2 linked regions of the Homo sapiens genome follow. The protein of the gene in region 2 purifies or fractionates together with the protein of the main gene of each other region. This does not show direct contact. Each region holds a gene or a part of one and is shown on either strand. Other genes may lie near its edges.

Region 1 (3,824 bases), on a different chromosome or scaffold from region 2:
CAAAAGTCAAAGACAAACATATAATTCTGAAAATAGCAAGACAAAAGTATAAAGTCACATATAAGGGAATTCTCCTCAGACTAATAGCAGATTTCTGAGCAGAAAACTTACAGGTCAGAAGAGAATAGGATGATATGCTCAAAGTGCTAAAAAAAAACCCTTTCAGACAAGAATACGATACCCAGCAAAGCTATCCTTCAAAAATGAAGGAGAAACAAAGTCTTTCCCAGACAAGCAAAAACAGAGGGAATTCATCACCACTAGACTAGTTCTACAGAAAATGCTTAAGAGAGTGTTACATCTGGAAGCAAAGGGATGATGTCTACCATCATGAAAACACACAAAAGTATAAAACTCACTGGTAGAGCAGATACACAAATGACAAAGAGAAAGGAGTCAAATGTTATCATTACAAAACCCCCAACAATTGGAAAGGTAGGCAATAAAGAGAAAGAAAAGAACAAAGAATGTACAAAACAATCAAAACAAATAACAAAATGACAGGAGTAAGTTGTTACCTATCAATAACAACCCTGAATTTAACAACGGTTTAAATTCTCTAGTTAAAAGATACAGACAAGCTGAATGGATAAAAAATAAGGTCCAACTATATGCTGCCTCCAATAAACTCACTGCATCTGTGAAGATACATATAGACTGAATGTGAAGGAATGGAAAAAATATTCCACACAAATGGAAACCAAAAGTGTGCAGGAGTAGCTATACTTATATCAGACAGAGTAGACTTTAAGTCAAAAACATAAAAAGAGACAAAGAAGGTCATTTTATAATTAATGATCAAGAGATCAATTCAGCCAGAGGATATAAGTATGTGTATATATGTATATAGACATATATATGTATATGTATATTTATACACATATGTATGACCACCCAACGGTAGAGCACTGAGATATGTAAAGCAAATATTAGAGCTAAACAGAGACCGAGAGACTGCCAATACAGTAATAGCTGGGAACTTCATCTCACTTTTGGTATTGGGCAGATCACGTAGACAGAAAATCAGCAAAGAAATACTGGACTTAGTCTGCATTATAGTCCAAATGGACCTAATGAATATTTGCAGATTATTTATTCAGCAAAGAATACTGGACTTAGTCTGCATTATAGTCCAAATGGACCTAATGAATATTTGCAGATTATTTATTCAGCTACAGAATACACATTCTTATCAGCACAGGGAATGTTCTCCAGGATAGACCCTATGGTAGGTCACAAAACAAGGCTCAACAAATTTTTAAAAATTGAAATACTGTCAGGTATCTTAATGGATACTTACCACAATGGATACAGACCACAATGGAACAAGAGGAACTTTGGAAATTGTACAAATACGTGAAAATTAAACAACACGCTCCTGGACAACCACTGGGCTGATGAAGAAATTTAAAAGGAAATCAAAAAATTTCTGGAAACAAATGAAAATGGAAACACAACATACCAAAACCTAAGGGATACAGCAAAGTTTGAAGCAATACATGCTTACATCAAAAAAAGTAGAACAATTTCAAATAAACAACCTAACGGTTCATCTTAAGGAATTAGAAAAGCAAGAAAAGCCAGGCATAGTGGCTCACACCTGAAATTCCAGTACTTTGGGAGGCTGAGGCGGGTGGATCACCTGAGGTCAGGAGTTTGAGACCAGCCTGACCAACATGGTGAAACCCCGTCTCTACTAAAAATACAAAATTAGCCGGGCGTGGTGGTGCATGCCTGTGATCCCAACTACTCAGGAGGCTGAGGCAGGAGAATCACTTGAACCCAGGGGGCAGAGGTTGCAGTGAGCTGAGATCACGTCATTGCACTCCAGCTTGGGCAACAAAAGCAAAAATCCATCTCAAAAACAAACAAAAAAGCAAGAATAAACCAAACCTAAAATTAGTAGAAGGAAAGAAATAATAAAAATCAGAACAGAACTAAACATAATAGAGGCTAAAAATTAACAAAATAAAAAGTTGGTTTCTTAAAAAGATAAACAAAATGGATGAACCGCTACTTAGACTAAATAGACTAAAAAAAGAGAAGACCCAAGTAAAATAAAATCAGGGATAAAAAAGGAGACATTACCATTGATACCACAGAAATAAAAGGGGTCATTAGAGACTATGATGAACAACTACATGTGAACAAATTGGAAAGCCTAGAGGAGATGGATAAATTCCTGAACACATACAACCTACTAAGATTGATCCAGGAAGAAACAGAAAACCTGAACAGACCAATAGTGAGTGAGTAGATTGAATCAGTAATAAAAAACTCCTCAACAAAGAATAGCCCAGGACTAGATGGCTTTACTGCTGAACTCTACCAAACTTATAAAGAAGAATTAACACCAATTCTTCTCAAACTATTCCAAAAAAATTGAAGAGGAGGGAATTACTCCTAACCACTTCTATGAAGTCAGCATTACCCTGATACCAAAACTAGACCAAAGACACAACAAAAAAGAAAACTACAGGCCAATATCCCTGATGAACATAGATACAAATACCTTCAACAAAATGCTAGCAAACCAAATCCAATAATACTTCGAAAAGATAACACATGATCAAGTGGGATTTATCCCAGGGATGCAAGGATGGTTCAACATGAGCAAGTCAACAAATGTTGAACATTTGCACATCACATCAACATAATGAAGGACAAATCATATGATTATCCTGGTAGATGTAGAAGAACATTTGGTAAAATTCAACATCCCTTTATGCTAAAAACCCTCAACAAATTAGGCATGTAAGGAACATACCTCAACATAATAAAGTCCATATATGACAAACCCACAGTTAACATCATACTGAATTGGGAAAGGCTTTCAGCCTGTATCCTGGAAGTCCTAGCCAAAGCAATCCCAAAAGATAAAGAAATAAAAGGCATCCAAATAGGAAAAGAAAAAGTCAAATTGCCCCTCTTTGCAGACCATATGATCTTCTATACAGAAAAACCTAAAGACTCCACCAAGAAAACCTCTTAGAACTGATAAATTTGGTAAAGTTGCAGGATACAAAATCAAAATACCAAAATCAACATACCATACCAACATACCAAAATACCAACATATTCTACACATCAGTAATGAACTAGCTGAAAAAGAAATCAAGAAAGCAATCTTATAGTATTTAACAAAAATACCTAGGAATGCATTTAACTAAGGAAGTGAAAGATCTCTACAGTGAAAACTACAAAACACTGATAAAAGAAACTGAAGGTGACACAAGCAAATGGAAAGACATCCCATGCTCATGGATTGGAAGAATTAATATTGTTAAAATAACCATACTACCCAAAGCAATCTACAGAATCAATGCAATCCTTATAAATACCAGTGACATTTTTTTTCACAGAAATAGAAAAAACAATCCTAAAATTTGTATGGAAACACAAAAGATCTCAAATAGCCAAATAGTACTGAGGAAAAAGAACAAAGCTAGAGGCATCATGCTACGTGACTTCAAAATATACTACAAAGCTATAGTAACCAAAGCAGCATGGGATTGGTATAAAAACAGACATATAGACCAAAGGAACAGAATCGAGAACCCAGAAACAAATCCACAAATTTACAGCCAACTGATTGAGAAAGCACCATGAACACACATTAGGGAAAGGATACTCTCTTCAATAAATGGTGTTGGGAAAACTGGATATCCATATGTAGAAGAATGAAACTAGGCCCCCGTCTGTCATCTTATAAAAAATTAACTAAAAATGGGTTAAAGAGTTAAACATAAGGCCTGAAATGATAAAATTAATAGAATAAAGCAGAAGAGTAATGCTTCATGATATTGGTCTATGCAAGTATTTTG
Region 2 (3,824 bases):
ACCAGAAAGGATCTTCATAGGACACACCCCAAGATGAAGTCATAGGCATGTTTCCATAACTCCCTGTTCCCAAGGTTTGGATAACCTACGCTCATTTAGCAGGAACACTACACTACGTGCTTGTTGCTGGCGACTTTTTTTTTTTTTGAGATAGGGTCTTGCCCTGTTACCCAGGTTGGAGTACAGTGCCAAGACCATGGCTCATGGCAGCCCCAATCTCCTCGAGTGATCCTCTCACCTCAGCCTTCCAAGTAGCTGGGATCACAGGCGCATGCCACTGTGCCTGGCTAATTAAAAAAAAAAAAAAATTCCAGAGACACGGTCTTCTTACGTTGCCCAAGCTGGTGTTGAACTCCTGGGCTCAAGTGATCGTCCTGCTTTGGCCTCCCAAAGTGCTGGGATTACAGGGGTAAGCCACCACACCTGGCCCGCTGCTGCTTCCCTAGCCGATAATTTTACATCAATAAACCTCTTGTGTGTAAAGTGCTGTACACTTGTATGCTGGTATCAATAGTAGTTCATGTAGCGAAGAGGTGGCAATGATTACATGAAAACTGCTTCAAAGCTAAAGACAGTTGTAGTTTTCCTTGGTGTCTTTAAATCAGAAAAGAGGTGTCAAAGCTGACGAAGGTCCAGGCAGCAGGAGTCTTAAGAGCATGGAAGCACTACTGCTTAAATCCTACGGTGGCAGCATCCGGTTTCTTTAGTGATTAGTAACAGGAATCAGGAATTTCTAACAAGCAGTGCCAAAGATATTTTAGGTGCAGTTTAAGTATATTACACTTTGACTAAAATGTTTTGAAGATTTGAGAAGTTTGTACCCTTGAACCTGGTAAGCTGGGCTTCAGCTAAATGGCTATATAGGTTTTATAGATATGAAATACATTTTTTTTTTTAACATGAAAAGACTAGCTGTGAAAAGGCAAATGTAGGCAACACAAAAACAATTTAGATCAACATCTCAAACTTTATAATACACTCACATTTATACGCAAATTTCTGTTTACAAGTACAAAAGGCAAAGAAACACAAAGAAGCTAAGCAACTGCATCATCAGCCACATTCAATCGAATTAATACTGTTGTCCCCAGTCCGTAGTTTTAATCCAGAGGAAATGGTAGATGCCATTTCACACATGGACTCCACCGTTAGTTTTAGAAGTTGGAGACTGTGTGTGGTTCCGCAGAAGTCTGGGTTTCTACAGAGCTGAACTGAGACTCCATCGTGTTCCAGGCCAGATCAGCCAGAAGAAAGTCATCCATTGCTGTCTGAGTTTCGTTGCTGGTGAAGAACAAGCTCCCCAGGGTTTCAAACCCAGAACTCATGGTCTGTGTTTCTGTACTGTTCAACTGAACTTTGCTTTCTAGAGCAGGTATATTTTTAGCAGTGGAGACTCCTTCAGTTTGGGTCTCTGTGTCAGATGAATCAGTACTCACGGAAAAGCTGGAGTGTTTCAGAATACTTCCCAGAGGCAGATGAGGGCTACTGTCTAAGAAAAAGTTTAAGTCTGTCTGTGTCTGTGTGTCAAACATCTCAAGGCCTAAGAAGTTAGAATTTCCCCTACACCCATAGGACTGAGCAGAGGTATCTGCGAGTAAGAAGTCCGTTTGAGTCTCTATGTCCAGTGACTCCAAGACTGGCTCGGTGGTCATGGTGCTAAGTTCACTCTCTTCAGTTTGAGTCTGGATATTTGAGGCCGAAAAGAACTCTTCGATATCAAAATCGATTCCGGGGTTCTGGGCTGGGCCAGATGGGAGCTGGGTGTCAGGTCCAGGATTTGTGTCAGACAAAAGACTACGATGATCCAATGTCTGAGCAGGCAGATTACTTGACAAGATGTTTTCCAAATCACTTAATAAATCTATGGTTTGGGTCTGATTATCTGTCATGTTCTGTGAAGGAAGCATACTATTCTGTGCACTGAAATTTATAATTGGTGCAGATTTCTCAATATCTTGATTTAAAGTCTTAGGCTCATTCTGAGGTAACAAACTATGAGTTACTGTCTCTGCTACTAAACTGTTGCTTATAATGTTACCTGTAGCAACATTATATGATGAATGAACACTCTCAAAAATGTCTCCGCACATTCCAGCTTGGTCCATCTGTACATGGTCATCCGTTGGACTTTCTATCCCACTGGTTTGAGTTTCTCTGGAGACCCCACCTGACTGGAAACAGGTGTCCATAAATGCATCAGTCTGAGCAGCTATAGATGAAGTTACCTTAGAGCTGGGCAAAAATGTCTGAGTGTGAACACTAATGGGAAGAGACACTTGAGAATCAAACGACAAATCAGTTTGAGAACAAGACGACACAGAGGAATCAGCAGTGGCCCACTGTGCAGAAGGTATAAAGTTTTGTGAGGCATAAGACAGATCTGTCTGCACGTTGATTGAAGAAATGCTATTCTTTTGACACGTGTTCCCTAGTTCTTGTAAAGGATTAGATGGACTTTTACCAAAGTTCACTTGAACACCAGTACTTATTGGCTCACCAGCAATAGGATTAGCAATTTTGAAAAGAGGTAGGCTCTCCTTAAGAGAGCAAGCCTCTGAATCTAGGCCGAGGATCAGGGTTCCTACTGACAAGGGCATTAAGTGCACAGCCCCTGTGGCAGAGCCCTGATCAACACCTAACACCACAGGCTGGGCTGAGGAGTCGGCTGTAGGCACAAAGACAGGCATGACAGAAAACTGCATCACGGGTAGTTTAACCAAAGCCACTTTGGGCTTTGGTAAAAGCAACTTCTGAGGATATCTCGGTGGTGTTGTAAGAGTCTGCTTGTCAGTGTTAGAGCCACAAGAGTCTTCAAAAGATGGTTCTAGCTTTATTTCTGAAGCTTCTAGTTCTTGAGTGTCTGGTCTAGGGATTGGTTGGTTGTTCAATGATTCAATGGTCTTGTTGGATAACTTCTGGTTTTGTGCACAGTTTTCCATTTTCCTTTTCTTACTAGGTGGGTCCCTGAAAACAATGACAGAGCAAAAAGAAAACCTTAAAATACAACTTTCTTCGACCATGACACTCTATCCTCACTTACAAATGCCATTTCCCCCATCTATAGCAGAGGTCATGTTCAACCCAGACAAGATAAATCCATTCTTTCGCAACTCTGGGAGTTGGTCCTATTATAGCAGGTGAACTTTGAGAAACATGCAAACAGAGAAGGAGGAAACATACCTTTTGTTAAGCTCTAAGTACTAGAACTCAACTCAGATCTTTAAGCCAAAAGAAGCTAAAAGACTTACATAATGCAAGTTTTATCATTTCTAAGGCAGGAAGCTATCACACTAAATGAAAATTTGACCTTTAAATGAAGTACAGTTTCATGATAAAACTTATTTGTTGGCAGTTTGGTTCCCTCTGATAGAAAATTCTGGAAGCTGAGATTTTCAAATGGAAATAACAAGGGACTCTCAAAGAGGGCTGGCAGAAAAAAATAGGGGGAACAATTGGGTCAAGATTTCAGGCCCAGACATGTGTCATTTGCAAGACCTGCTTCCATTTTCAAAAGCTTCCTTCTTCCACGTCACACATTTTCTAAGATTCCTTTTTCCTCCCCACACCACTGGCTCTCCAGGATGTTTCATCTGAAATGCTTCCCATAGCTACTGACTTCTGTGCCATCATTTCTTTCCCTTCACCTGTGTTCTGCAGGTATCTCGTGCCCAGTTCGGTAGATGTGAGACTGCAGTGCTGTTCTACTGGCGTAGGGACAGCCGCATGTGCACCGGAAGGTCTTGCCACAGTCCTCTGCATGTCTTTTCAGGTCCCATTCTGTACCGTACGAATTGCTGCACTTACTACATTTGTGCTTCTTCTCA

Evidence for each region.
Region 1: the proteins of ATMIN (region 2) and OAS2 purify together in Homo sapiens (affinity purification with mass spectrometry; one large-scale study listed by BioGRID and IntAct). This does not show direct contact.

What each region holds. Positions count from the first base shown.
Region 1 is NC_000012.12:112,981,279-112,985,102, reverse strand, and holds part of OAS2 (2'-5'-oligoadenylate synthase 2), read right to left. Parts: intron 1-3,824.
Region 2 is NC_000016.10:81,042,301-81,046,124, reverse strand, and holds part of ATMIN (ATM interactor), read right to left. Parts: coding exon 3,645-3,824; intron 2,965-3,644; coding exon 1,155-2,964; 3' UTR 1-1,154. UniProt on the Homo sapiens protein: Transcription factor. Plays a crucial role in cell survival and RAD51 foci formation in response to methylating DNA damage. Involved in regulating the activity of ATM in the absence of DNA damage. May play a role in stabilizing ATM.